Linked DNA regions of Homo sapiens. The protein of the gene in region 1 interacts with the protein of each later gene in a pairwise test. Each region holds a gene or a part of one and is shown in the gene's direction. Other genes may lie near its edges.

Region 1 (7,477 bases):
TCCCGCAGTGGTCCCGGCGGGCCTCCCTGAGTCCCCAGCACCCGGCACTGGCTGGCAGCAGGGCTGACTCCAAGAGCGAGGCCCGCACCGTTCTGTGGGGTCAGCCCAGCGTCACGGATGTTTGTCTCAGGCGGCCCCAGCTCCCATGCCCCAGAAGGCCCCAGAAGGCCCCAGGAGGGAGTTGGCGCTGCGTGACCGCGCACGGCCGGCAGGCAGCACTTCTTCGTGGCTTCTTCATGGCTGTGTTTAATGTCCACTGACGGCACATGCGAATGCCATGCGTGCCCACGCTCCTGGGTGTGAGATAGTGCTCGGAGAAGCCCCAGCACTCACTGGCACCCAGCCCCATGTGCCTGTTGTGGTGAAGGAACTGCAGGCTGCCTATCTGAGACTCGGCAGGGAGTTGAAGATGAGGAGACCAGCCACACACACTCGTTGAATGAATGGGCACCAAGCACAAGTTTCAGTGCCCCCCATACATGCTGATATGGTTCGGCTCTGTGTCTCCACCCAAGTCTCACCTCGAATTGTAATCCCCACGTGTGGAGGGAGGGACCTGGAGGGAGGTGGTTGGATCATGCGGTCAGTTTCCTCCAGGCTGTTCTGACAGTGAGTGCTCAGGAGACCCGATGGTTTAAAAGTGGCAGTTTCCCCTTCTCTCTCTCTTTCTCCTGCCGCCATGTACGACCTGGGAACTGGGACTAACATAGACTTCACCTTCTGCCATGATTCTTTTTTCTTTGAGACAGAGTTTTGGCTTTTTGCCCAGGCTGGAGTGCAGTGGCACAATCTTGGCTCACTGCAACCTCCACCTCCTGGGTTCAAGTGATTCTCCTGCCTCAGCCTCTCAAGTAGCTGGGATTACAGGTGTGCACCACTAAGCCCGGCTAATTTTTTATATTTTTAGTAGAGATGGAGTTTGACCGTGTTGGCCAGGCAGGTCTTGAACTCCTGACCTCAGGTGATCCACCCGCCTCGGCCTCCCAAAGTGCTGGGATTACAGGCGTGAGCCACCGCGCCCAGCCAGATAAGTCCTCTCATTGTCCACACTTTCTGGGTGAGAAAGTGAGGCACAGAGCGTTGAGCAGATTGCCCAGAGCCTGCTCAGGAGCCAGGAGTTTACCTTTTGCAGCCACACATCTCATCTCCTGAGAGCAGTGGCCAGAAAAGGCTGTCCTGTGGACTGAGCTGAAGTCTGAGTCATCTGCTCCTTGCCAGCTGCTATAGGAGCGTGCTGGCCTGGGGTGGTCAGGAACTCCTGTACCCCTGCCCTCTTCCTCTAATTGCTGACGTACCCACAGCTCCAGCATACAGCAGGTGCTTGACAGATGTCTGTTGAATGACTGAGTGTCCTGCTGAGATATAGGGCTCCTTCTAGGAGCCAGAGTTAATTTCTTTCTTTCTTTTTTTTTTTTGAGACAGAGTCTTGCTCTGTCGCCCAGGCTGGAATAGAGTGGTGCGATCTCGGCTCCCTGCAACCTCCACCTCCTGGGTTCAAGCGATTCTCCTGCCTCAGCCTCCTGAGTAGCTGGGATTACAGGTGCATGCCACCACGCCCGGCTAATTTTTGTATTTTTAGTAGAGATGGGGTTTCATCATGTTGGTCAGGCTGGTCTTGAACTCCTGACCTCGTGATCTGCCCACCTCAGCCTCCCAAAGTGTTAAGATTACAGGTGTGGGCCACCACGCCCAGCCAAGCCAGAGTTAATTTCAAGAATGCAGAGGTCTGATAAAAGTCACACTTTATGAAAAACATTTTTTTTTTTGAGGTGGAGTCTTGATATTGTTGCCCAGGCTGGAGTGCAGTGGTGGGATCTCGGCTCACTGCAACCTCTGCCTCCTGGATTCAAGTGATTCTCCTGCTTCAGCCTCCAAAGTAGCTGAGATTACAGGCACCTGCCACCACACCTGGCTAATTTTTGTATTTTTAGGGTAGATGGGGTTTCACCATGTTGGCCAGGCTGGTCTCAAACTCCTGACCTCAGGTGATCTGCCCACCTCGGCCCCCCAAAGTGTTGGGATTACAGTTGTGAGCCACTGCACCCAGTCAAAACATTTTTTTAACTAGCACTAATGTGCATGTGAAAAACATCTTTGAAATGCTCGTGCACTTTCTGCATTTGATCTTGGTGAGAAGTCAAAATCTGCTCCAAGACCTGGCACTATATTGGGGCAAACAGTCAGTACAGCTATTGTGTGCCTGCCAGCATGCTGTCATTACTCCTATTGCGTGTGCCTGCCAGTGCACTGAGAGTCAGTACACCTATGGCATGTGCCTGCTAGTGTGCTGTCAGTACAGCTGTTGTGTATGCCTGCTAGCACGCTGACAGTCAGTATGGCTGACAGTCAGTACCCCATTGCGTGTGCCTGCCTAGGTGCTGACAGTCAGTACCCCTGTTGTGTGTTCCTGCTAGTGCACACTGTGCACATCTACTGTGTTCCTGGCACTATGCCACGGGCTTCCACACACCTGGTCCCTGTGCTCCAGATGAGGACACAGAGGCTCAGAGAGGGCCTGGCCAGAGTCACAATGAGTGTGAGGCATTGCGGTGCTCTGAGCCTGACTGGGTGGGTCCTACCCCACCCACATGAGAAGACTCTGGAGGTCCCAGAGAGGGCTACTTCTCTTGATCCCTAGCACCTGAGCTCCAGCACCCGGGGCTGGAGTCTGCCTGAAGGATGCTGACCATCCCCAACTGCTACTGTGGTGGCCAACAGGGAGGACACAGCTGCTGTGGTGGGCAGCTCTGTGTGCCTCTCTGCCCTTCTTCCTCCTTCGCAGAGCTGGCTTCCTAGGAATGGCCCAGGGGCCAACACCTCTGTGTGTATATTAGTTTGATATGGCTTCATAGCAAATCACCACAAAACCAACAGCTTAAAACAACTCTCATTCATTACCTCCTAATTCTTAGTAACCCAAGGCTGAAACCAAGTGGGCAGTTGGGCTCAGTTCTTGTGTGGAGGCCCTGGGGTCAAACCTGCCTCCAAGCCCATTCTCTTCTTGTTGGCAGAACTCACTTCCTTGCAGTTAAGGTCTTGTTGTCTTGCTGGCTGTTGGCTGGGAGCAGTTCTCAGATCCTTGCCACGTGGCCCCCTCATCTCAACAACAGAAAACCTTCTTTGGTTTGATCCCTCCGATTTCTTCAACCAGGCAAAGGAAACTGCTTTTAAAGGGCTCCTGTGATGAGGTCAGGGCCCGCCTGGTGATCCTCCAGTCTTAAGGGTACCTCTGGGCCACACAATGTCACATTCCTGGGCATCACCCCCACCAGACTCACAGTCCCGGGGATGATGCCGGCTTGCACGTCAGGGGTCAGGACTCTCCAGGCCACCCTAGGATGTGACTGGCCTTGGGTGCTCCCACCGCACTGCTAGAGCTGAGGCTTGCCCCTGGCTTTTGTGTTGCTGAGCCAGCCTCATGGCTCTGCAAGTCTCCTGAGGTTTTCAGGGTTTTGCTCCTGGCCCTATGACTTAGTTGCTTGTAGGGCAAAGCACTTTTCTCCCTGCCTCGGTGGCTTCATCCCTGCAATGGCAAAGACGCTCCGTTTGCCTACCAGGCTTTCCCTTTGGGAGTTATGAGGAGAGGGGGAGGCAGGATAGGTTGCCCCCCACTCACTAAGTGCGCACAACCCTGGCACCCCTCCTCTCCATCGTCTGGGGGCATCATTGTTTCATCTTACCCCTGAGAAACAAAGGCCCAGCGAGGTCAGACGCTTGCCCTTGGCCTGGGCCACACAGTGAGTGAAGGTCTGAGCCCAGGCGGGAAACCACCTCTTTCACGGCAAAGCCTTTGTTCTGGCCTCACTCCTCCACTTTCACTCTTCTCCGCTCAGATCCTGCCCATCCCCTGGGCTCACAGGAGATGCCCCTTGGAGGCCTCCAGGCCAGCGCCCACCCCTGTGGCTGTGGCATCCTCTCCGATGGCAGGCACAGACCTGGACCCTGTTGGCGCCAGCCCAGCCTACAGCGGCCTTGGCGGCGAAGAGCTCTGCGGCCCCACCCCATGGGTGGGACCTGCTCCTCCGGCATTGCCCCTGCCCCGCCTGCCCTGGGGAATGGGGGCTCATCTCCACCCCCACCCCACTCTCAGGCCTCACAAAGCCAAGTTGGAGAAGCAGCTGTCCCGCTGTGAGCGGTTGGAGGGTGGGGGGTCTTGTTGCAGTTCGGGTAGCCCCCCTCCTCCGCCCTCTCCCCCTGAGAGCCGCGGCCCCTTCCGCAGCCAGGCGCTTGCTCCTCTCTCTCTTCCTCCCTCCCTTCCTCCCTCCCTCCTTCCCCCGCCCCCGCAGTCTCTCTCTCTCTCTCTCTCCTTCCCCCAACCCTCCCTCCCTCCTCCCCCCGCTCCTTCCCCCAACCCTCTCTCTCTCTCCCTCTGTCTCCCTCCCTCTCTCTCTCCCGCCGCGCCCGCCTCCCGCCCGCCCTCGCTCCCTCCACTCCTCTCCCCTCCCCTCCCCGGCACTGCAGCACCAGCCGTCTGCAGCTCCGGCCGCCACTTGCGCCTCTCCAGCCTCCGCAGGCCCAACCGCCGCCAGCACCATGGCCAGCACCATTTCCGGTAGGCTCCGGGGCCACGGGCTTTGTGGGGCGGCGGGATCTGAGCAGAGGCCTCGTCTGGCCTCGCCTGGGGCAGCGGCCGGCAGCGGACGCCAATTTCCCTTCTCCTACCCTGCGCGTTGCAAGCCTGGGCCCGACCCGCCCGAGGCTGGGGTCTGCGGCGCCGGCGGGGCTGGTGGGGCGCTGGGCTGCGAGGCGCCGCGCCGGGGAGCGCTCGGGACCGGGACGTCGGGCGGGGGCGCCTCGCCCCTGGGGGAGCAGCGTGCCACGCAGGGCGCGACTGCCGCAGGGTGGCTCCCAGACCCGGGCGTGGGCTCGCGACCGGGTGGGCGCGCTCGCGATGTGCGGGCGGGGTCCCTGGGGCGTCCGGCGACCCGAGATCTGGGTCCGCCAGAGCCTTCGTGGGGAGGCGGGGAGAGGGTGGGACCCTCTGCCAAAGCCCCAGCCGGGAACCCGGCGCTCCCCGCGCCAGTGCAGCACAGGGGCTGGAGGGGGCGCTGAAGGAGGGGGGCGGGCCAGACACGGCGGAGCCCGGAGTGAGGGGGACCGCGCCCTCCCCCCACACCGCTGCGGCCTCGGGGACCACCCTTTGCGACGCCCGCGCCACCTGCTCTGGCCAGAAAAGCCACTGCCCTTTGCGCCGCGGGGTCTGGATGGGGGAGGGGCGACTGCGATCCCCAAACCCTCCGGAGACCAGAGGGCTCCGCCCCTCCCGCCCCTCCACCTCCCGCGGGGCGGACCCACCGCCTTCGAAGGTAGCGCCCACCCCGGCCTCCCGGCCCGTCCCGCGCGGAGCTCAGGCGGAGGGGCGGGCGCAGGCCCGGGCGGGGGGCGGATTCTGGACGCAGGGGAGCTGCCGGGCGACCTCGGGCGCGAGGACGCTGGGCCCGCCCTTCCCGAAACGCTCTGCTCCGCCGCGAGGCCGCAGAACCCGCTTCGTTTTTCACTCGACGTTTGGGAGGACAGGACGAAGGGCCGCACCTCCTTCCCATCGCCGCCCCCGTTCACGAGCCGCACTCCCTCCCACCTTTTCTTACGCCCCCGGGACAGGTCGCCGCGGTCCCTCTCCCGAGCTGACTGGTTCAACTCGGGCGCCTTGGCCCGGGGCGCAGAACTCCGCCCACCCACGCGTGCCCGACCTGACCCCGCCCCTCAGGCCCCACGGGCTTGGAGGCTCCAGGTGACTTCAGCACCTGCCAGGAGGGGACCGTGTGTGTCACCGGCCACACCTCCCCACCCTATCTGGGAGTCCTGTCCATCTGCGCTTCCTCCCTCCGCCTCCTCCTGGACACCCCCGGGGATACTGGGGGTGGGGGGGCTCTCAGCGGAGGGGACTCCCCTCCTGCCCCTGAGGGCAGCGCCGTCCTCTCCAGGGCCGCCTCCTGCCCTTCCTGACAGCCTTTCCCTGACGGTCCCTCCCCATGGGCTCGGTTCCTGGGGCTGAGCTGGGAGGGCGAGGGCATCTCGGCATCTGGGCACTGGCTCCTCGCTCTTTTGTGGCCTCTGCTCACATTCTCCTTCTGCAACCCAGAGTCTGACCTCCTCCAGCTGTGTGGTGTTGTCCGAGCTGCCTAACCTCTCAGGACCTGGGTCTCCTTATCTGGGTAGAGATGACGGTGCTGGCACCTCTCCTGGGGCTTGTTCTGAGGCCTCAATATTTCAGGAAAGGTGCTTGGCCGCTTGCCTGCTAAGAGATGAGTGCTCACCGCACGTCAAGCAGCCTGACTGTGGTAGCCACATTTCTGAGTTTCCTGCCCAGGGAAAGGCAAATCGGCTGGTGGCTCCTGCCATGCTGTGCTCCTGGCACCATGAGAAGCAGCCTGGGTGACAGTGACCTCCATCTGCCCCCGGGGGGAGCCGGCAGCAGCCTCCAGGGCCCTCCAGGGGTCAGAGGCCACTGTGGTCCCCTGGCCTCTCAGTTCTGGACAGATCCCCCACCTCCGCGAGCTCCCAACAGGAGCCTGCAGTCAGGCCCAGGCTCATGACTGGGCTCTCACCCGGCACTCTGTGTGATGCTGGGTGGAATGCTTGCCCTCTCTGAGCCTTCATTCCTCCTCTGTAGAAGTGAGGCAGATAGGGTGGCTCATGCCTGTAATCCCAGCACTTTGAGAGGCTGAGGCCGGTGGATAAACTGAGGTCAAGAGTTCGAGACTAGCCTGGCCAACATGGTGAAATCCCCCCTCTCTGCTAAAAGTACAAAATTAGCCAGGTGTGGTGACACACTCCTGTGATCCCAGCAATCTGGGAGACTGAGGCAGGATAATTGCTTGACCCGGGGAGAGGGAGGTTGCAGTGAGCTGAGATTGTGCCATTGCACTCCAGCCTGGGCAGCAAGAGTAGAAACTCTTTCTAAAAAAAAAAAAAAAGAAGAAAGAAGAGGAGGAAGACGAAGAAGACGAAAGAGAAGGAGAAGGAGAGCTGATAAGGGCATCCACCCGGGTGGGCGGGAGGGGTGGGTGTGAGGTGTGACCCTGGGAGTGGGCACCATCCACCTGGGCGGCGGGAGGGGTGGGCGTGAGGTGTGACCCTGGGAGTGGGCACCATCCACCTGGACGGCGGGAGGGGTGGGCGTGAGGTGTGACCCTGGGAGCGGGCACCATCCACCCGGGCGGGCGGGAGGGGTGGGCGTGAGGTGTGACCCTGGGAGCGGGCACCATCCACCCGGGTGGGCGTCAGGTGTGACCCTGGGAGCGGGCACCATCCACCCGGGTGGGTGGGAGGGGCGGGCGTGAGGTGTGACCCTGGGAGTGGGCACCATCCACCTGGGCGACGGGAGGGGTGGGCGTGAGGTGTGACCCTGGGAGTGGGCACCATCCACCTGGACGGCGGGAGGGGTGGGCGTGAGGTGTGACCCTGGGAGTGGGCACCATCCACCTGGACGGCGGGAGGGGTGGGCGTGAGGTGTGACCCTGGGAGCGGGCACTAC
Region 2 (7,023 bases), on another chromosome or scaffold:
TGTGTGTTAGCTTGAGAGCCTGGGGTTGTAGAGCAGAACTGTTGGCTGCCTTGCCAGGGAAAGGCCCTGCTTTCTCCCTCAGACACCTGCACTGCACCAGGAACTACATCCACCTGAACCTGTTTGCATCCTTCATCCTGCGAGCATTGTCCGTCTTCATCAAGGACGCAGCCCTGAAGTGGATGTATAGCACAGCCGCCCAGCAGCACCAGTGGGATGGGCTCCTCTCCTACCAGGTGTGTGGTGCATCCAGGACCGCCTCAGGAGGGATGGGCGGTTGGAGGAGGCCTGCCTCTGCCACCCTAGACAGGCCTGGGACAGGAGAAGACAAGAGCCGAACAGTCCTGGCCCTTCGGGAGCCCCCAGTCTGATGGGAGAGGCAGTTCGCCTTGGGACCCTCCAGTCTGCTGAGAGAGGCAGTCTACCTTAGGGAGCTCCCAATCTAAGGGAGGAGACACTGCCCTAGGGAATTCTCAGTCTGACACAAAAGAGTAGTCTTTGGAGACACACTTGAGTTTGAATGTCAGCTCTGTCACTTACTATCTGTACACTTTTAGGCAAGTCACTTACTTCTCTGAGGCTGAGAAATAGGTGAGAAGTCACTTACTTCTCACCTGCAGGGGGATACATTACTTTCTTCCAATCAGGATAGTGAGGATTCAATGAGCTAAAGCAGATAAAGTCCTTAGCACTAGCCCTAGCCAGAGATGTGAGCTCTCTCCTCCTGCATTAACCATGGCAGGATAGTGGCTGGAGCAGGACGGGGAGTGGTATCAAGAGAGGCAGAGGGCAGAGCTGTTGTCCCCATGACACCCTTCCTCTACCCCCAGGACTCTCTGAGCTGCCGCCTGGTGTTTCTGCTCATGCAGTACTGTGTGGCGGCCAATTACTACTGGCTCTTGGTGGAGGGCGTGTACCTGTACACACTGCTGGCCTTCTCGGTCTTATCTGAGCAATGGATCTTCAGGCTCTACGTGAGCATAGGCTGGGGTAAGAACCGCCATCACCCACCCTGGACCTGTGGCACGGGGGTGGGAGACCTTGACCCCTCTTCTAACATGGTACTTGGAACGCACTGCTGAGCAAGGGGCAAGGCCCACTGGGTAACCCTCTTCCTGGGCACAGGACCTTCTGCCCCGGTGCTGTTAAGATGCCGTAGGGGGTTATGGTCCTCCCCTCCTCTGCATAACTCTCCTCCCTTAATGGAAGCCTCCACCGCATGTGGCCAAACACCACCCTCTACCACTATCATGCACACCACTGGAGGTCATGGCACTGTTCTCTTAAGACCACATGGGGACATAAGTTCACACCCAGTCCCGGGCAGCCCGAGGGCCTGAGGGAAATGGTGAGTCCTGGGCCTCAAGGTGGGGAGGGGATCAAGAGGGTAGGGGGCTGGCTGGGGGGAGCCTGCTGGTGCTCTGTCACATGACGATGAAGAGGAGGGCTCAGAGGAGAGCCAAGTACAGTGGGGCAGGGGGGCCAGAGGCCAGCCAAGGAAAGGGTGGACGGCGGATGTGCCTGGAGCCCAGCTGGAAATGTTCTAGCCAAAAAAGTTTGCCAAGAACCATTGTGTCTTTTTTTTTGCTGGAACATTTCTGGTTGTGCTTCTGCCTCTCACCACGTGGGATTGTAATGAGGGGCAGCATTGGGGTTGGGAAGGGGGCTGGGATCCCCTTCACCCCTGGGAAAACATGCAACAGGCCTTTCTGGAGGGACCCACGGTACCCAGAGAATAGGCCCTGCCCTCTGTCCTCCCTAATCTGCCATTGAATCCATGAGTTTTCCTGTTCCACACCATCCCCCGCCCTGCTTGCCACTCCTTCATTCACTCCTCCTTCCTTCATGCGCCCACCTCACGCTGCTCTGACCACGGCTGCCCCTGCCACGGACCTCCGGGGACTTTCCAGCTCAGTCACATCCAGACTCCTCTTCCCTGACAATGGTCCTGTCCCTGAGCCTTTGCAAGGCTGTTCTCCATGCAGGAATGTTCAGGGAGCATCCTTCCCACACCAGGGTGTCCGCTGCCTCTTCAGGAAGCTGCCTCAGGCCACCAGTCCTCGTGGTTCTGTGCTCTCTGCCCTCTCAAGCTCTCCATCCCCTGTCCTTGCACTTCATTTATTTTTACTGGTGTTCCTCAGCCATTTTTCTCTATACAGCTCCCCCCACCCCCCAGGAGAAGAGTAGCCTGAGAGATTTTAATGTGACCAGTGTCTTGAGGACACCAAGGCCCAGAGCTGGCAGGGCCTTACAGGCAGAGCAGGCCCTGGAACCCAGGCCTCCTGACTCCCAGGCTCTGGGCCTGCGGCCATCATGCCCTGTTCTCTTGCCTGGGCTGCATCCCTTCAGTCCCCTGCAGCACCCCTGAGCAGGCTCAGGCCTCTGCACAGGTGGGCAGGTAGGCCTGGCTCCTGCTCACAGATCCCTGCTCCTCACCTGCCTCCTCCACTCCCAGAACCCAGTCCCTTCCTTGGCCTTTTCTCCCCGAGGCTTCTTCCTCCTGCTAGAGCAGGAGGAGGGAGGCCATCGAGGGCAGCTCAGGGAAGGCTGTCTTCAGGGTGGGGGACGGTGTCTGTCCATTCTAGGAAATAGCATCAGCGCTGTTAGTGCCTGTCACCATGGCGACCCGAGGGCAGGAACAATCAAGGGACGTGTGTGATGTGTGCAGAGGAGCGGGGGTGGCTGGAGTTTGGTGGGGACACACTGCCCTAGAGGTCTCTGAGTGGGAGATGGGGGAGGGAGTGCCAAGTCCTTTTCCTACCACCTCACACCCTAGCTCAGGGCTCGGGGTCTGTGGGAGCACAAGGGCAAGACCCGGAGGACACCCTGCTCTAATCAGAACACCTTTTTCTTGAGGATTGGGGTGGGGGAGACGGAGAGAGATTCACAGGTTGCTAGGAGCTCAGACGTGATGCCAGGAGGCCTTGCCCAAGCTGGGATACTTGGGAAACAACTTTCAGCTTCATGTGCAAGTGGAAGAATTAAAATTAGGACTCTGACACAGTTGGAGAGGTCCCCCAAAGGGCATGGCAGCTTCTGCTGCAGTCCCCAGGCAGTTGGGGGCCTGTAGAAACCCACATGGAGGCTGTGCAAGAGGGAGGCAAATGATGGTTGAGGGAATCATTACTTCCTGGAGCCAGTTGTGTGTGTCTTAATTTGAGCTTTTTTCTCCAACCTGTCTTGCTCGTTTTCTAAATGGGAGAAAGATGAAGCCAGCAGGGAGTGCGTAATGTTTGCATGCAGCAGGGCTTTCGTGACTGTGTTTTTTGAAAAGGCCTTGTTAAGGAAATGCTGACGATGAGTGAAACTTGCCAGGTCTGGCTGATAACATGGGTGAGTGCCCTGATCCTGGAAGGAGGTCTCAGAGAGAAGGGACAGCAGGGGGCGAGGGATACCCAGAAGGAAGCTTCTGCATGTGTACGTGGTTCAGGAAATCGGCATGCTCTTGCCCAGACAATGTTCCTTCCCTTATTGGTGTGTTGACTCACCCATCATTCGTTCCATTCTCACTGGGCATCTTCTATGTGGCAGGGCCTGTACCATGTGCTGGGGCCTTTGGAGACCATCCCATTCCTTGTCCAGTCTCATAAAGGCCTGTTACTAAAGCACCGTAGATGCTGAGAGGTCCGATTTGTGTAGAAATCAATGGGCCAGGAGAGAGAGAGCTGATGAAGAATGCTGGTCCGCTGGGGGCTCCTTTGCCTCCTCCATCTCTCCCTGCATCATCAGGCACAGTAGATCTGGGCACACAACCTGCTTAGTAGCTGCTGTTGAGTGGACACTGATGTGCTAAAGACATAGACAATGGTGACAGGAAAGGCTATGAAGTGGTTCTGTCCTGGAAATGTGCTCCAGGCAGAGATTCCCAAAGTCATACGTGCACACTCATGGTCCACCCACCACACCCTCACACACACATGTCTACATACCTTAATATGCACATGCTTACCTATCTCAGACACATCTCCAACACTGAGGGAGGGGCCAACGGAGACGAGCATGGAGACAGCCAGTGCAGAAGGCCATTGAGGGCGGTGGGAGTGGGTATGGGATTGCAGCCCTGAATTCGAGCCCCACCTGTGCCCTTCTGAGTCCCTGATCCATCTCCTCATATGTCATGTGAGGAAGGAAAATCCAATTTTAAATCAACCAACACAGACCCTGAGCTCTCAGGGTGATCTGGGCATTGAGGCTCTGAAGGTGAGTGAGGCCCAGGCTCTACCCTCAAGGAACTGGGAACCAGTTGTATTAATTCTCTATTGCTGCAGAACGATTAACCCTGAAACTTAGCTACTTAAAACAACGAACCATTGTTATCTCACAGTTCCTGTGGCCTGCAATCTCGGTTCAACTTAGCTGGGTACCTTGTGGCTCAGGATCTCACAGAGAAAACTCTTTAGGCAAGAGCATGTGGATTTCCTGAATCACATACACATATAGAAACTTCCTTCTTGGGCATCCCCCACCCCCTGCTGTCCCTTCTCTCTGAGACCTCCTTCTAGGATCAGGGCACTCTCAGAGAAGCAGCCAGCTGTCACCAGGGTTGCTGTCATCTCAAGGCTTAACTGGGGATGGAGAATCTACTTCCAAGCTCATTCAAGAGGCAGTTGGCAGGAAGCCGCAGTTGCTGGCCAAAGGCTGGAGGCCTCCATTTCTTGCTGCAGAGACCTCCATCTAGGCCTTCTGAGTTCTCTCAGCACATGGCAACTGGTTTCCCCCAGAGCAAGTGATCAGAGAAAGAGAAAGAGAATGCAAAACAAGCCACAGTGTCTTTTATAACAATCAGAAGTGACATGCCATCACTTCTGCCAGAGGTTCCTGGGTCACATGAAACAATGCTGATACAACGTGGACTAACTACCCAAGGGTATGAGCACAGGAGGTGGGGATCCCTAGGGGCCATCTTAGAGGCTGTCTACTACACAAGTCAAGTCTCAGCCGAGTGGAAAGTAGTATTGTTGTAGCTGTTGTTATTGTAGGCCACTGCGGACAGTTAGTTGGTCAGCTGGCATCAAGGACTGGGCTCCTGTCTCCATTCCAGGATTCTGCCGAGCCCTCTTGAAGGTGCACAGTGGTAGGGAAGAGATGACTGAAAGGACATCCAGTGCCTTTAGGAGTTGACTGGCAACGTGGGCTGAAGCAAGAGAGAAAATGGGCATCAGAGGGTTCGCCTGCTCCTTGCCTCATCCGTCATGCTGTCCCCACCGCATGGCCCAGTCCCGCTGCTGTTTGTGTGTCTGTGGCCTGGTAACTTAGCCGGGACTCTGAGGGCAAGTCCTGACAGTGTGCCTGGCACACAGGAGGTGGGGGACTGATGACTGATGAGGACCTCTCTGTAAGGAAGAGTCTGGGGGTCCGCATGGGGCTCCTGCTGCCTCTGTTCTCCCAGGTGCCCAGAAAAAAACTAGAAAACATAGTTGGAGGCCAGGCAAGGAGAGGGGCTGGAAGTGTGAGGGGCTTGGGGCAGGGAGAGGCCTCGGCATGTAGACTGTGGCTCTGGCCTGCCAGCCCCTCTCCCCTTCTGTCTTTCCCTCTCTCTTAGGTGTTCCCCTGCTGTTTGTTGTCCCCTGGGGCATTGTCAAGTACCTCTATGAGGACGAGGGGTGAGTGTCCTGCTCCAAGGGGGCGGGTGTGCCCAGGTCCCCATCCTCAAGGTCCATGGGATTCCTTGGTACCTGGGGCACCCATCTGTTGAGAGGATAAAGGGGGGTACCAGGAGCTTAGAAGGTGAATTTAGTTCTCTAATCTCCCCTCCCTGCCCCTGCCCCTGCCCCTGCCCCTGTCCCAGGATTGTTTGATGACTAACGGAACTGGGTCTGTGGGGTACATGGTGCCCTCCTGCAGGTTTTTCTGTAATATCTGCAAGTGAAATGTTTGTGTCATTTTGTATATGATGCTGGGTACACACATGACTGTGTTGGTAGGTCCTTGAAAGCTTGTTTGGGGGCTGTGTGCATCTCTGTGTATGACTGTGTATTTGGACTATGCGTGTGTGTTGTGTGGCTGTGCACTGGCAGGGCTCTGTGGGTCCATGGGACTGGTTTTTGGGTGGCTCCTGGGAGCTGTGTGTGTGGCACTCAACATGGCCATGTGCATTGGCGGCCTCTGTGCCTGCACCTGAGCTGGGGGTCCTGTGAGTCCTGCTGGATGCATGTGTGCATCTCTCTCCCTCCCCAGCTGCTGGACCAGGAACTCCAACATGAACTACTGGCTCATTATCCGGCTGCCCATTCTCTTTGCCATTGGGGTGAGTGATGGTGTCAGGGATGGGAGTGGCAGCTATGATAGGGCTGGGCTGGTGCCCCCTGCCAATCCCCGGCCCCACCCCGCAGGTGAACTTCCTCATCTTTGTTCGGGTCATCTGCATCGTGGTATCCAAACTGAAGGCCAATCTCATGTGCAAGACAGACATCAAATGCAGGTGATGTAACTGAGCTGGCTTTACTGAGGACCCTCAGCAAGTGCCCCTTTCCTTCTAGCAGAGAGAGAGAGAGAGATCCTGGGATGCTTAGCTTAGAGCCCTACACTACCCTCTCCTTCCACCCAGGCCTGGCCTTGGACCCCAAACCCTTGCTTTTGCCCTGTCTCTGGGCAGCCCCTGGACTTGTTGGGGTCTTGACCTCTATTCTTTCCCTCCAGGCAGCCTGTCCCAGGGTATTTGGGGTGGGAGAACATCCATGACCCAGATATCAGGACTTGGTAGGAAGTGGGGAGGGTAGAGAAAGGGAAGAAGAGTCCATGGGAGAGGTCCAGAATGACTCGAGATCTCTGCCCTGCCCCTCAGACTTGCCAAGTCCACGCTGACACTCATCCCCCTGCTGGGGACTCATGAGGTCATCTTTGCCTTTGTGATGGACGAGCACGCCCGGGGGACCCTGCGCTTCATCAAGCTGTTTACAGAGCTCTCCTTCACCTCCTTCCAGGTGACTTCATGCTTGGGGACACTTGCTTGTAAAGTCCTAGAGTGGGGGTGGGACAGACACCAGCCTGCATCATGCAGATGGAAAAGGTGGGAAGACTGGG
Region 3 (7,023 bases), on another chromosome or scaffold:
GCTCACCCATATAATTCTAGCACTTTGGGAGGCCAAGATGGAAGGATCTCTTGAGCCCAGGAGTTCAAGGCTGCAGTGAGCTATGATCTTGCCACCGCACTCCAGCCTGAATGACAGATACCCTGTTCCCCTGCCCCCACCCCACAAAAAAAAAAAAAAAAAAAAAAAAAAAAAAAAAAACAACAACAAAAAAACACTTTGTTATTGACTAGGGTTATTTATTCTTACTGAAAAAGGAGACAGTTAATTTTCAGAGTAAGGAATTGGTGTCCTATTTTCTTCCATTGGTGTCTACCTATGTTGTGGTTGTTTTTAAATTTTTGTTTTATTTAGTTTTTGACTTTGTCTCTTTTTAAAAATACCTTTATGGACTCATAGATATTTATGTACTTAATTGCATTTATTATTATTTTTGATGCTCAAATTATCTCATCCTTGGCCAATGGATGCCCTTTTATATTGCCTCTGTGTCGTTTTTTTTTTTTTTTTTTTTTTGAGACAGAGTCTTCATCTGTCTCCCAGGCTGGAGTGCAGCCGCACCATCTCGGCTCACTGCAACCTCCGCCTTCTGGGTTCAAGAGATTCTTCTCCCTCAGCCTCCCAAGTAGCTGAGATTACAGGCCTGCACCACCATGCTAGGCTAATTTTTGTATTTTTAGTAGAGATGGGGTTTCACGATGTTGGCCAGGCTGGTCTTGAACTCCTGACTTCAAGTGATCTGCCTGCCTCGGCCTCCCAAAGTGCTGGGATTACATGTGTCAGCCACTGCACCTGGCCCTCTGTGTCCTTTTGACAATATTTCCTTAATCTTTGATACCTTCCTTGCTTTTTGTCAAAACAAACTGTTCTAGGCTTGTGATAATTTTATGTGTCAACTTGACTGGGCCTTGGGGTTTCTAGGTATTTGATAAAACATCATTCTCGGTGTTTCTGTGAGGTTGTTTTGGATGAGATTAGCATTTAAATCCATAGACTGAGTATAAAGCACATTGCCCTCCCTAATATAGGTGGGCCTCATCCGATCAGTTGAAGGCCTGAATAGAACAAAAAGACTGACCTTCTTTTGAATAAGACAGAATTCTTCATGCCTGATTGCCTTTCAGCTGGGACATTTCCTTTTTTTCTAGTCATTGAACTCAAACTAAAACATTGGCTCTTTCTGGGTCTTGAGCCTGCTGGTTCTCAGGCTTTAGGACTCAAACTAGAACAAAACCATTAGTTCCTCAGCTTGCCAGCTCACCTTGCAGATCTTAGAACTTGCCTGCCTTCATAATCACTTACTCTGGAGAACCCTGACAAATACAAAATTTCTCTCTTATATTTTTTGTCCTACACCTGGAATCAGCCATTGTGCCAGGAAGCGCTGTTATCATTTAGTGGAAATAATATTTCAAGAAAACTTGGGTGCTAGGTTTACTCATAATTCTTGGGTTATCATTGCTTCCAGGTTTTTTCAGTGAACAAATCTTGGAAATATGCATATTTTTAACTTATTATTTTGAGATAAGTTTAGATTTATAGGAGAGTTGCAAAAACAGTGTAGAGAATTCACATATACCCTTCACCTGACTACTTCTTAACATCTTACACAGATGAAAATCATGGAAAAGTTATCAAAATGGAGAATTTAGCTTTCATGGAATACTGTTAACTGTGAGATTTATTCAGATTTCATCAGTTTGTCCACTAATGTGTTTTTGCTACTTGAGGACCATAGATTGCATTTAGTTGTCATGTATCCTTAGTTTTTAGCCTTGAGAGGAATGTGGCTATGTGTCCTGAGTCACATAGCATGCTGCTACAACTTCTGCTTTTCCAATTACAGATTAAATCTTCCTTATTCTTGTTCTGTAAATGATTAGGAAAGACACCAGAGATAAGACCCCTCAAGATCATTACCCTTTCTCATGGAATGTTCCTTGGAATGCAACTAATTAAATTGCTATAATATGTATACTGACCTTATATGGAAAATGTTGCAACCCTGTTAAGCTTCTCTGTCTCTGCCTATATAAGTGAAACCTTAACTTCCCCACGTTGGAACAATGACCCATTATTTTGGAGTTTGTGTTTCCTGAGTGGCTGTCCTCAAGCTTTGCATTTGAATAAACTATAGTCACATATATATATATATATATATATGTATTTTTTTTTTTTTTTTTTTTGAGACAGAATTTCGCTCTTGTTGCCCAGGCTGGAGTGCAATGGCGCAATTTTGGCTCACCACAACCTCTGCCTCCCGGGTTCAAGTGATTCTCCTGCCGAGGCCTTCCAAGTAGCTGGGATTATAGGCATGCACCACCACACCCAGCTAATTCTGTATTTTTAGTAGGGATGGGGTTTCTCCACGTTGGTCAGGCTCGTCTCCAACTCCCAACCTAAGATGATCTGTCCTCTTCGGCCTCCCAAAGTGCTCCCAAAGTGGATTACAGGCATGAGCCACCGTGCCCAGCCAGTCATTGTTTCTTCTCCAATCTTTGTCTCCTCTAGTTTGTAAGAATTCTTCACTTTTTGCTGTCTTTCATGACCTTGACAATTTTGAAGAGTACACGTTAGTTGCTGTAGTAGTTTTCAATTGCTAAGTAACGAATTACCACAAACTTAGCTGCTTAAAACAACACCCATTTATTATCTCAGTTTCTGCAAGTCAGAAATCTAGGTGTGGTGTAGCTGGGTACTAAATATATTCCCAAGAGATAATTGAAGGCATATATCTACATAAAAACTCATACACGAGTGTCTATAACAGCATTATTCATGACACCCAGAAAGTAGAAACCCAGATGCCAGTCAGCTGATAAATGGATAAACAAAATGTGTTACATCTATACAATGGAATATTACACAGCCATAAAAAGGAATGAATTACTGATACATGCTACAACACGGATGAACCTTGAAAACATTTTGCTAAGTGAAATAAACCAGATACAAAAGGCCACATATTGTGTGAATTCATTTATATGAAATATCCAGAATATGCAAATCCATGGAGACAAAAAATAGATAAGTAGGTGCCAGGGGTTGGGGGAAAAGGTGAGAGGAATAGTAAGTGACTGCTAATAGGTTACAGGTTTCTTTTGGGGTGATGTAAACATTCTGGAGTGTTGACATTTTATGCCACACACAAATGTACACACAGATGTGCTATATATAGTGTGTACATACAATCACCTATATATATCTATAGCATTTATAAAAATATAACATGGCAGCTTTATAGCTGCCATAGCACAAATGTTTATAATATATAGCAGCATTATTTATAAATGTCAAAATTTAGAAGCAACCAAGATGTCCTTCAGTAGATAATGGATAAACTGTGATACATCCAGACAATGGAATATTATTCAGTGCCAAAATGAAATGAGCTATGAAGCCATGAAAAGATGTGGAGGAACTTTAAATGCATATTACTAAGTGAAAGAAGCCAGTCCAAAAAGGCTCCATTCTGTATAATTCCGACTATGTGACATTCTGGGAAAGGCAAAACTATGGAAACAGTAAAAATGTAAGTTGTTTTTAGGATTTTAGGGAGGAAGGGTTGAATAGACAGATCACAGAGGATTTTTAGGGTAGTGAAATGATTGTGTACGGTAGATACATATGATTATGCATTGCCAAAACCCATAGAATGTGTACCACCAAGAATGAACCTTAATGTAAACTATGGACTTTGCGTGATAATGATGCATAGGTTTAAGTAATGTAAATACAGGTTTACTGAGTGTAACAAATGTACCAGTCTAATGGAGGAGGCTGATAGAAGGGGAAGCTGAGCATGTGTAGGGACAGGGAATATATGGGAACTCTGTGTACTTTCTGCTCAATTTTGTTGTGAACCCAAAACTTCAAAGTCTATTTTTTTTAAGGCTCTGGAACTAGATAGTGGTGATAGATACACAACATTGTGAATATACAACATCACTGAATTGTGAATTGTAAAAGGTGAATTTTATGCTATATGAATTATATCTCAATTATTAAAAAATAACATGTACCAAGAATGTTACATAAATGGCATCAAACTGTATGTAATCTTTTGGAATTAGCTTTTTTCACTTAGCATAATTCATGGAGATTCATCCAAGTTTTGCTTGCATTCTTTTTCTTTTTATTGCTGAGTAGTATCCCATAGTATGGATGTACCACAGTTTATTTGACCACTCACATGATGAAGGATGTCTGGAGTATTTTTGGTATTGGCTATTATGAATAAATCTGCTGTAAACATTTGTATACAGGTTTTTAAATAAAAAGTTTTCATTTCCCTGGGATAAATGCTTAAGAGGTAAAATTGTTGAGTTGTGTGATAATTGCATGGAGGCTTTTTTTTTTTTAAGAGACAGGGTCTTGCTCTGTTGCCCAGCTGGAGTGCAGTGGCATGATCATGACTTACTGCAGCCTTGAACTCCTGGTCTCCGGCGGTCCTCCTACCTCAACCTCCTGATACAGCTAGAACTACAGATTTGTGCCACCACACCTGGCTAATTTTCTGTAAGGACAGCACCTCTCTATGTTGCCCAGGCTGGTCTCAAACTCCTGGCCTTAAGGATCCTCCCACCTTAGCCTCCCAAAGTGCTGGGATTACACGTGTAAGCCACAGCGCTCAGCTGCATGTTAGTTTTATATCAAACTATAAAACTGATTTTCAGAATGCCTGTACCATTTTACATTCCCACACAGCAATATATGAGTGATAGTTTCTTGCCAGCATCTGGTGTTGGCACTGTTTTTTGTTTTAGCCATTCCAATAGGTACGTAGTAATATCTCCTTGCAATTCTAATTTGCATTTCCTGATGGCTAATGATGTTGAATATCTTTTCATGTGTTTTTATTAGATACTGAATTTAATCAAGCCTCTAGATCTTTCTGCCATTTTTACAGGAAATATAAAAGAGAAAAAAAGTTCAGTGATATATCCTGGGGAAGCAATCAGTCAAATGCAAAATGTGGAACATTCTACGGGATGTATGTCCTAATTTCTATAACAAGTCAGTGGCTTGGGGGAAAAATGTGTGTAGAGGTGATTGTTACAGAATATATAAGAGACTTAAGAAAAATAATAATTAGATGCAATATGTGGATCTTGTTTGGATTTTGATTTAAGCAAACCAACTAGAAAAGTATGTTGAGACAATTGGGAAAGCTTGAATATGAACATGGTATTAGACATTAAGGAATTATTGTTAATTAGACGTGTTGATGACATGATTGTTATATTTTTAAAAATTCTGATCAGGTAGATATTCATACTGAATTATTTACATGGTAAGTGACATGATGTCTAGGATTGTTTTAAAACACCCTAGCAGAAAAAGAATAAGGGAAAAAAGAGTGAAATGGAAGGTAGAGAAAAAAGATTAGCAGAATGTCGACAATTTTTGAAAACATGTGTGATGGGTACCTGAGAGTGTATTTAAATATTCTTCTTACTATTGGCAATACTTGAAATTTTCCATGATAAAATATTTTGAAAAAGTATTTATTGAAACAACATTTTGTATTTTAAAATAAAACATCATCAATTGTTGGCCTTAAGGCATTTAGTTTTCTGTTATAAAACAAATTCAACCTTGATGAAAAAAATCTGATTCTAGAGGACAAACAACGAAGTTAAATTTTTCGTTCAGGCAGAAGAAAACAAGAGATTGAAAGAACTCCAGCTCAAACAAGAAGAAAAACTGGCTATGGAATTGGCAAAACTGAAACATGAAAGTCTAAAGGACGAAAAGATGAGGCAACAAGTAAGAGAAAACAGGTATCTTGGTTTCTCTAAATTTCATTTATTTAGTCTTTATCTTTAAACTCTTATGTAATCCTTAGCACCTGAAAGTGAAATTTCTTTGTTTATGTCATTTCACTTAGTTAATATTTTACCTGGAAATACTTATTGCTTTAAGTTCTATAAATATTTATTTGAGAAAAGAAGTTGTATTCATGGAAGTCTGAATATTTACAGTGAAAAATAAATATCAGTCCCCCTGCTCTTTCCTTTACACATAAATTTTAAAATGACCTCTTATAAAAAATGAATTCCTAATCTTAAGAGAAACCTTAGGTAATAACTAGTTTAATTTTATACCTCTACATAAATTTCCTACAGTATTTCTGGAATGACTGTGGAGCCTGTGTTTCAGTACCTCTAGTAACTGCAGTAGGAACTTTAGTCTTAATGTTAAATTATCTTCCCCCCCATTGTTTTAAAATTAATTTCTCTGTGACTTCATGCATCTGTCTTCTTTAGATGTCCTTTCACATATATGAACGCACTAAATGTTTTCTTCTGTAAGTTAGCTATCCCTTGTTCCTTCAGTTGTTTCTTACATAACCTGGCTTTAAGTTTATTCATCATCCTGGTTTCTTCTCTGATTACAGTTTAAATTATTAGTATTCCTTAATTGCCCCCATACTTCCGTATAATACTCCAAGAAAGACTGCCAGATACTCCAGATGACAGGACACTATTCTAGAATGTTTCTTGATCCTGCCTAAGATCGAATTACTTTTTAGGAACAGCCTTGTCACAGTGTTAATCAAAACTCAGGGCCAAGTAAATGCTAATCATATACTTATGTAATTGAATATATTGGAAATTTACTTCGATAGTTGTTACATTTTATCTTAATTGAGCAGGACGTCTGTAGAATATTACAGGAAACATGGATGAGCTTCATGGATTTTGAACCTTGTTAAATTATATTAATATGTTTGGCAAATGTATCCATGTGTATTTTTCTGGCTCCACAACTCTAATCAGATTCTCTAAGAGATTACCGATCCTTAGAAATTTAGAATTACTGTTAAAATCTGCTTATTGTTCTAGTCTCAAACTATCTTTTTGGGCCCTAATTCTCCAACCATCATTAGCTGTTACTCATGGTTTTTTTTTTTTTTTTTTTTTTTTCACCTGACGATGAACTATTTCTTATCTCTAATTCCCTGAAAACAAGAATTAAATAGAAGAGATTTTCACTTCTAGCAATTGCAGATTAGGTTATTCAGATAAATGTTCCTCCTGA
Region 4 (7,023 bases), on another chromosome or scaffold:
AAACTCCTGGGAAAACTTGGGGAAATGGACCCAGCCAGCGTCCTAAAGGAGTCCTTAGTCACAAGCAGTTAAAAAGTAGTATTTCCCTGCTATTGTGCCTTAGACTGTCAGAACTGGAAGAGCCCTGGAAGATGATCTAACCCAACTCTCCCATTTTGCAGTTGGGAAAACTGAGGCCCACCAAGAAGAAGTGAGCGTGCTGAGTAGGGTGGAGTTTGTGATCTGCAGAGAGGTGTGTGGCTGTGGACGAAGCTGTCCCCATGCAAACCTTTGTGCAAATCCGCAGGGGGCTCTCCTGCAGTTACACAGCCTGTGGGCAGTGAGTTCAGTCCAGTGGAAAAGTGTCCTTCCCTTCACCCGCCGCTGAGCACTGGGCTGGGTTGTGAGGATGCTTTGATCTTTAAAATAACCTCGCAGAGTATACACAGCAAGAGCAGTATCCCCATTCCACAGAGAAGAAAACTAAGAGCCTAAATTGTTGACATTTGCTCAATGTCTCCATGCTAACTAGTGAATCCAATCACATCTCCTGGCCCTTCTCTTTTATTCTGTGCCATCTGCCATCTAATTGGGCTTTCAGTCCCAGATCCGGTCTGTGGCCTCTGTGGCTGACTGGGCCAGCACCTTGGTTTGCCTGGCATAGAAAGGGGCCAAGCTCTTGGCAGAGTCTGGGAATGCAGGAGACTTTAAAGAAATAGGAGATGTGGTCAGGTCCCAAGAGAGCTCACGCCTCCAGGGCCAGGCCAGCCTTGGCTGGAGAACACAATGAGGCTGGTCCCAGTGCAGGGAAGCCATAGAAGAGTGGACCTCGGAATGGGGCCCTCCAGATTTTTGCCAACAAAGGCTTGGAGGAGACTTACCTGGGCATTGTGTGTGCCTGGACCTCTGATGAGGTCAGTGCACAGTGCTGGGTAAAACACATGAGTTCTGCTGCCCTGGTCTTCACCATCTACCTGCTTCCAGCCATAGTCCAGGGCCCAGAGCTGGACCCAGGATATGGCCCAGCACCCAGCCAGAGAGTCACTGTGGATTTCAGCATCTTGAGATCTCCTTCCCAATCCCAGATCCAAGAGGTGGACTGGAGCTCTAGCCCTAAAACAGGAGAGGGAAAATTCCAAAACAAACAGCAGGAATGTCTGGGGCAGATGGCTGCCAACATAGGGCAGAATGCTGCCAGCTGGGACAGGGCGTAGGGGAAAAAGGCACTGGCATAGGAGCTGGGACACCCAGATTCCGGGACTGATTCTCTCACTGTGTCCTCAGGCAAGTCCGTCCCTTCCCTGAGCCTCCTCATTTTCCCTTTTGTAGATGGTCACAGAGGCTCCTCCTCAGCTTGGTCATCTGTGGCTCTCAGGCAGGGCTTTCTCAGCTTGGGTGAGCATCAGGATCACCAGGAGAGGTCCTCTCTCCTAGGAATATATGTGTGTTTGCCAGTTTTACCATTTGTTTTATTACTTACTTGTTTTTAACACTTATAAGATGGGCGTGGTGCTGCTTGCCTGTCGTCCCAGCTACTGGGAAGGCTAAGGCAGGAGGATCATTTGAGCCCAGGAGTTTGAGGCTGCAGTGACCTGTGATTACACAACTGCACTCCAGCCTGGGCAATACAGCAAGACCCTGTCTCAAAACAAAATAAAACCCATTTATATTTGTGAAACAATAATATCCATCCTGAAAATGACATAAAACAGGATTATATAATTTAACAAATAACAATAAAGAGACCACCTGTTTTATACCAACAGCTAGACTAAGAAATAGAACACTGCCAGCAACCAGAAGCCTGTGGGTTCTTTCCCAGGCCAAGCTGCTTCCTGTCTGCCAGAAGTAACCACAATCTTGACTTTTTGGATAATAATCCCCTTGCCTTTTTTTTTTTTTTTAATTTTAGTACCTGTGTTGACTCCTAAACACTGTGATTATGCTGGTATATAATTCTATATACTATTTTGTGTCTTGCATCTTTTCTTCAACATTATGTTTGTGAGATTTATATACATTGTTGCATGTGGCTATAGTTCTTTTATTTTTATTTGACTTATTTTCTTGAGTTTAATGTCTTTTTAAAAATAAATTAGATAATATTCTCAAAAGATACAAAAGCAAAAGATATAAAAAAGTACATAATAACATGTCTCCTTCCCACCCTCTGCCTCCAGACATTCCATTCAATCAAAGGCAATCAATGTTTTATGTTTATCTTTCTGGGGAGCTTTTTAGAAATTGGTGATTCGGATATCTTGTCAGGATTGGAAACTGTGGATCCTCAGAGAACCAGTGCGTATCTTAGGCAGATGGCTTAACTTTCACACATCAGTGAAGATTGTTGATAAACCTTTGCTTTGGAGTGCTCTTTCCTGAACTTTCCAAGAGCTTGGAGTGCCCTTTCCTGAACTCTGCAAAATTCTTAAAAACAAAACCAAATTAGACCGAGAAAGAGGGAATTTAGGAGGTGGAAGGCATGATGGTCGTTAGTCCTGCGAGTGGGTGTTCATGGCAACCAGGGGCCGGTCTGTTGATATGTAGAGGAACCACAGCCCTCACAGAACACTGTGGACAGGGAGTTTCAAGGAAAATGTTGCATTCATCACATTCTAGGGAATGAACTGCATGGTAGGCAGTGAGTCACTCATCCTGACCGCCTGTTCTGTCTGAGTCAGGAAGGAGGAAATATTTTGTAACCATGCACATTTCTGATAGAAAGGCCAGGAGGATGTAGACTCTGTCCTTGTTCAGGTCCCCACCTTGCTGAAGGCGCCAGAGCTCGTGTAGGGCCAATGAGCCGGCTCAGGCTGAGCACTGCTGAGTGGGTAGATGTTACTCTCCAGGTAGGTGGTGCTGTGATAAGCATGGAAGTCAGGGCAGGGTTAGCAGCCTGCCTGCGATGTGCACTCCAGATGAGCGGAGGGAGCAGTTCAGCACAGCACCGAGGGCATGGACCCAGGAGACCTGAGTCCTGGGTTTCAGGACACAGTTATACAGGTAACACTTGGAGGAATAGAAACTGTATACCTCTGAGGGGATAGAGGAGCAGAGCATGTCCCTTCTTCACTGCTCCGCCAGGGGAAGTGTGAGTGCTCCTTGGCTGAGGCAGTCATGTTCTGTGGCTCTGATGTGGCCTGTTCCTACCCTTTAAACCTCCACTGTGGCAGTACCTAGCAGTCCTCCCTCCAGCTCCGTCTCGCTGACCACTGGTCTGGTTCTCTTTCTCAGCAGGAAGATGAAGCACCTCCCAGGCCCCCACTCCCCGAACTCTACAGCCCAGAGGACCAGCCCCCGGCTGTGCCGCCTCTGCCAAGAGAGGCCACCATCATCCGGCACACATCTGTGCGGGGCCTCAAGCGGCAGTCAGACGAGAGGAAGCGAGACCGGGAGCTGGGGCAGTGTGTGAATGGGGATTCCAGGGTGAGCGGGGGACCCTGGGGCTGCCACTCTACATGTGGGGAGAGGTAAAGGGGTGTGACACTGGCAGGTCACATCACCTGGGACTCTGCCCACAGGTGGAGCTGCGGTCGTATGTCAGTGAGCCTGAGCTGGCGACCCTCAGCGGGGACATGGCCCAGCCCTCCCTAGGACTTGTGGGCCCTGAGAGCAGGTACCAGACGCTGCCAGGCAGAGGTAAGGCAGGGCCCTCCCTGGAGTTTCTCTGGGAATCCCACCACACTGCTTCCAGCCTTCAGCTGGTGCCTCGTACCCTTCTGCCTGCAGCTCTAGGCCTAGGAGTGAGCAGCAGCTGTCAGGGGGGTCTGGGATGCCAAGAGGGAGGACCTGGCCTGTCTTCCTCTGGCCCACATCCTGATTCTCTTCCTCTTTTGTTACATCTGTCCCCAGGAACAATGATAATAGCAGTTACTAGAAAGCCTGGCACTGTTTAAGCACTTTATATAGACATGATATTCACAACAATCCTATGAGGAAAGTACTGTCATCCCCATTTTAGAGACACAGAAACTAAGGCCCAGAGAAATTAAATAACTTGCCAATTAGCTGGTCATTGGTGGAACCGGAAGACAATCCCAGTGCTCTGGCTCCAGAGTCACTGCACCCTGTAGGCCGGAGTGCTGGGTGGCTGCCACCACCTTGGCCATCTCAGACCTTCCAGAGTGCCACTCTAAGACTCAGTGAGCCCTTTCCTTAAATGCTTTCTTGCCAGTTGAGTGTCCTTCTCACTGTCCTCCTCACCCCAAGTTGGGTTGTGCAGGGTGCCTAAGAATGGATCAGGGGGTGAAAGGCATTCCTGCCCCGCCAGCCTTTCTACCTGCCAGGCAGCCCAGTCATCTGCATGTAAGGGAAGCCTGGGGTGGTCCACAGATCTGCAGGGACACTGCCCCCCATCAGGGACAAAGGTCACCCCTGGGCTGGCCCCCATCCTCTATTGGGGACCTTGCTCCTCCATGCCCTGGGGAGGAAGAAGAGAAATAAGGGTGGGTCATTGACTGGGTGCTCTTGGTACTCCTGCAAGAATGTGTGATGAGGGAGAAGCAGGGACCCATCCACCCCAGCACAAACATGCTTGCACTTCTCTTTCCTCACTAAGGGCTCTCAGGGTCCACGTCAAGGCTCCAGCAGTCGTCCACCATTGCTCCCTACGTCACACTCCGGAGGGGTCTCAATGCCGAAAGCAGCAAGGCGACCTTCCCTGTGAGTGGCCTTGAGCTGTCGAGGACCTCCCTGCTCCTTCACATGGGGAGGGAGGGTCTCCCAGGGGGACAGTAACTGGCCATCCCTTCAGCCCTGGGGATGGCCTCTGGGGTGGCCTCAGCCCCTCCTGAGCTCCCTGTCACCCACTGTCCACCAAGGAGGGCATCCTGCCTTTCTCTCTGGCCTGTCAGGGTGGCAGGAGGGAGCTCAAGAAGCCTGCACCCTGGGTTCTGGCCTCACTGGACAGGCCTGAGCCTAAGTGTCTGCATCTGCAGAATGGGTGCTACTCAGAAAGCTCCTGAGGGTTGGGGGCATCGTGTTGCTTAGAGGAAATAGTTCTCTAAGGCCAAGAGGAGCCCAACTAGAGTGTGCATGTGTGTGAGAGAGAGACAACGGGAATGCAGCCAGCAGGGTGGCTGTCCTCTGCGTGCCCAGCCCAGCTGTTCTGTGTCTCTCTTGCCTGCCTCCTCTTCCTCAGAGACCTAAGAGTGCCTTGGAGCGCCTGTACTCAGGGGATCACCAGCGAGGCAAGATGAGTGCAGAGGAGCAGCTGGAGCGCATGAAGCGACACCAGAAGGCCCTGGTCCGAGAGCGCAAGAGGACACTGGGCCAAGGGGAGAGGACGGGCCTGCCCTCATCTCGCTACCTCAGCCGGCCGCTCCCTGGAGATCTTGGCTCAGTATGTTAGGAGGGGCCAGGCAGCGGGGCAGGGACAGGGAGCCGAGTGCCCCTCAGAGTCCCCCAAACACAAGCACATCACACCTCCCAGTGAGAGAGCTGTCCATTGACCTACATGGTTCAGAGAACACCCCACGGGGCTGTTTGTCCACGACCCAGGCTGGACGAATGCCTGGTCAGAGGGTGACCTGAACCAGAGCTGGAGTGAGGATCAAACAGGCCCAGGAGCCTGAGGAAATACCCAGTCAGTCCTCCCAGCCGCGATGGAGAGGGGCCTTTGCAGGCGTTCGGAATCTCGGCTGAATTCAGGACCTGGGAATACAGGGTTCAGAGAGGAGAGGAGGAAGATGGTGACATGATTTGGTTAGAAGCACAAGCAAACTGATCAGCCTCCCAGACCTGCCAGCAGATGCTGTGTGAGGGTGATGGAGCACGGGGTCACACCCCTGCCCCAAGGGCCACTGGTCTCCCTGGGCTTGCAGTGCAGAGGCCTCAGGGTGTCTGGGATTGCTGGGGAGGCCTGTGCTGCCCCCTGGTGGCGCTTCCTGGCGCTGCGCCCTGTCCACAGTCACCTTAGGTCCCTTTGGAAACATTCCATTTGACTTTTCCCTGTTGTTTGAAATCCCATGTTTCCCTAAACCTCTAGCCTGATTGTTCTTTCCCTAATTCATTGCACAAGCTCCTTTGCTTTTAGTGTTACCGCTCATTGCCTCTCTAATCCTGCCTGATTGTGTTTACAGAAGCTTCTGATTTGCATTGAACATGCTCTAACTGGCCTGTGCTACTTATTACCGGGCTTGTAATAGCGGTTCTTGTCTCCATAGCCTGTTGAGTGTTCCCAGATGTGACTCACCTTTCTGCTGCCCTCTTCATGCAGGCCTACTGACTCATAATTCACTTGTCCCAAAAGCCACCCCACAAGCCTGAGCCAACCTGCTGCCTGACGCCACAGTCATTGGCAGAGGTCTGGGCATTATTAATTTATAAAAATCCATGCTTTACACCTGGACAGTAGACAGGGACTTCAGAGATTGCACGTTTGAATACATTCTCCCAAGACTGAGGTTGTTCGGTTTTAATTCCTGTAGTCCAATCACACAATTTCTTATGGAAAACCTTTTGTGTTTCTGGTATTTAATAACTTGAAGGGATAGCAAAATATACTGTGTATTCAGAGGGCCTCTCTGCAGCTGCTAGCTCAGACACCAAAGGGGTAAGGCCCAGGACATTCATATCTTTAAAAGCTGCAAACCTGGTAACCTTTAAACTTTTAAAACAAATGTCATATGGGGTAACACTGACCTTTTATAATTTGATGTCTCAAATGTAGAGATTATCTAAAAATCGTAACTTGAATACCTTGTAATTTTTCTCTTAAAAAAGAAGACTTGTGTAAGTCTCTGCATCAACGCCAATAAACATGTTGCTTAATAATAATGGATTGGCGTGGTTCTTCCCCAGGATACCTTATAGAGTCTAGTGAACTTTTCCTGTTTGTGGAAACAATCAGGCTGGGTTTAAATGAGGACTTGTCTCTATTTGGAGCATTTGTGAGCGTGTAAGGAAATGAGTGTTTTCTTTGTGAATCATTAAATTGATTTTTTCATCTTTGGAACTTCAGTTGCCTAATCCTTTCCAACAATAGTTGGAAACCATCACCTAAGAGTGATTACATTGATTTGGAGTCATTGAGAGCTTGTGCAT

Evidence for each region.
Region 2: the proteins of STMN3 (region 1) and GLP1R interact in a protein complementation assay, tested with the Homo sapiens proteins (one study listed by BioGRID).
Region 3: the proteins of STMN3 (region 1) and MNS1 interact in binary tests that used the Homo sapiens proteins (3 or more experiments, as listed by UniProt).
Region 4: the proteins of STMN3 (region 1) and PLEKHA7 interact in binary tests that used the Homo sapiens proteins (3 or more experiments, as listed by UniProt).

What each region holds. Positions count from the first base shown.
Region 1 is NC_000020.11:63,650,402-63,657,878, reverse strand, and holds the start of STMN3 (stathmin-3), read left to right. Parts: upstream 1-4,454; 5' UTR 4,455-4,533; coding exon 4,534-4,552; intron 4,553-5,112; exon of another isoform or gene 5,113-5,306; intron 5,307-7,477. UniProt on the Homo sapiens protein: Exhibits microtubule-destabilizing activity, which is antagonized by STAT3.
Region 2 is NC_000006.12:39,072,780-39,079,802, forward strand, and holds part of GLP1R (glucagon-like peptide 1 receptor precursor), read left to right. Parts: intron 1-82; coding exon 83-236; intron 237-830; coding exon 831-990; intron 991-1,534; exon of another isoform or gene 1,535-1,602; intron 1,603-4,750; exon of another isoform or gene 4,751-5,134; intron 5,135-5,542; coding exon 5,543-5,603; exon of another isoform or gene 5,604-5,688; intron 5,689-6,117; exon of another isoform or gene 6,118-6,177; coding exon 6,178-6,247; intron 6,248-6,332; coding exon 6,333-6,421; intron 6,422-6,784; coding exon 6,785-6,923; intron 6,924-7,023.
Region 3 is NC_000015.10:56,455,133-56,462,155, reverse strand, and holds part of MNS1 (meiosis-specific nuclear structural protein 1), read left to right. Parts: intron 1-2,145; exon of another isoform or gene 2,146-2,528; intron 2,529-5,634; coding exon 5,635-5,762; intron 5,763-7,023. UniProt on the Homo sapiens protein: Microtubule inner protein (MIP) part of the dynein-decorated doublet microtubules (DMTs) in cilia axoneme, which is required for motile cilia beating.
Region 4 is NC_000011.10:16,787,393-16,794,415, reverse strand, and holds part of PLEKHA7 (pleckstrin homology domain-containing family A member 7), read left to right. Parts: intron 1-3,213; coding exon of another isoform or gene 3,214-3,216; coding exon 3,217-3,405; intron 3,406-3,500; coding exon 3,501-3,618; intron 3,619-4,537; coding exon 4,538-4,641; intron 4,642-5,119; coding exon 5,120-5,320; coding exon of another isoform or gene 5,321-5,329; exon of another isoform or gene 5,330-6,934; intron 6,935-7,023. UniProt on the Homo sapiens protein: Required for zonula adherens biogenesis and maintenance. Acts via its interaction with CAMSAP3, which anchors microtubules at their minus-ends to zonula adherens, leading to the recruitment of KIFC3 kinesin to the junctional site.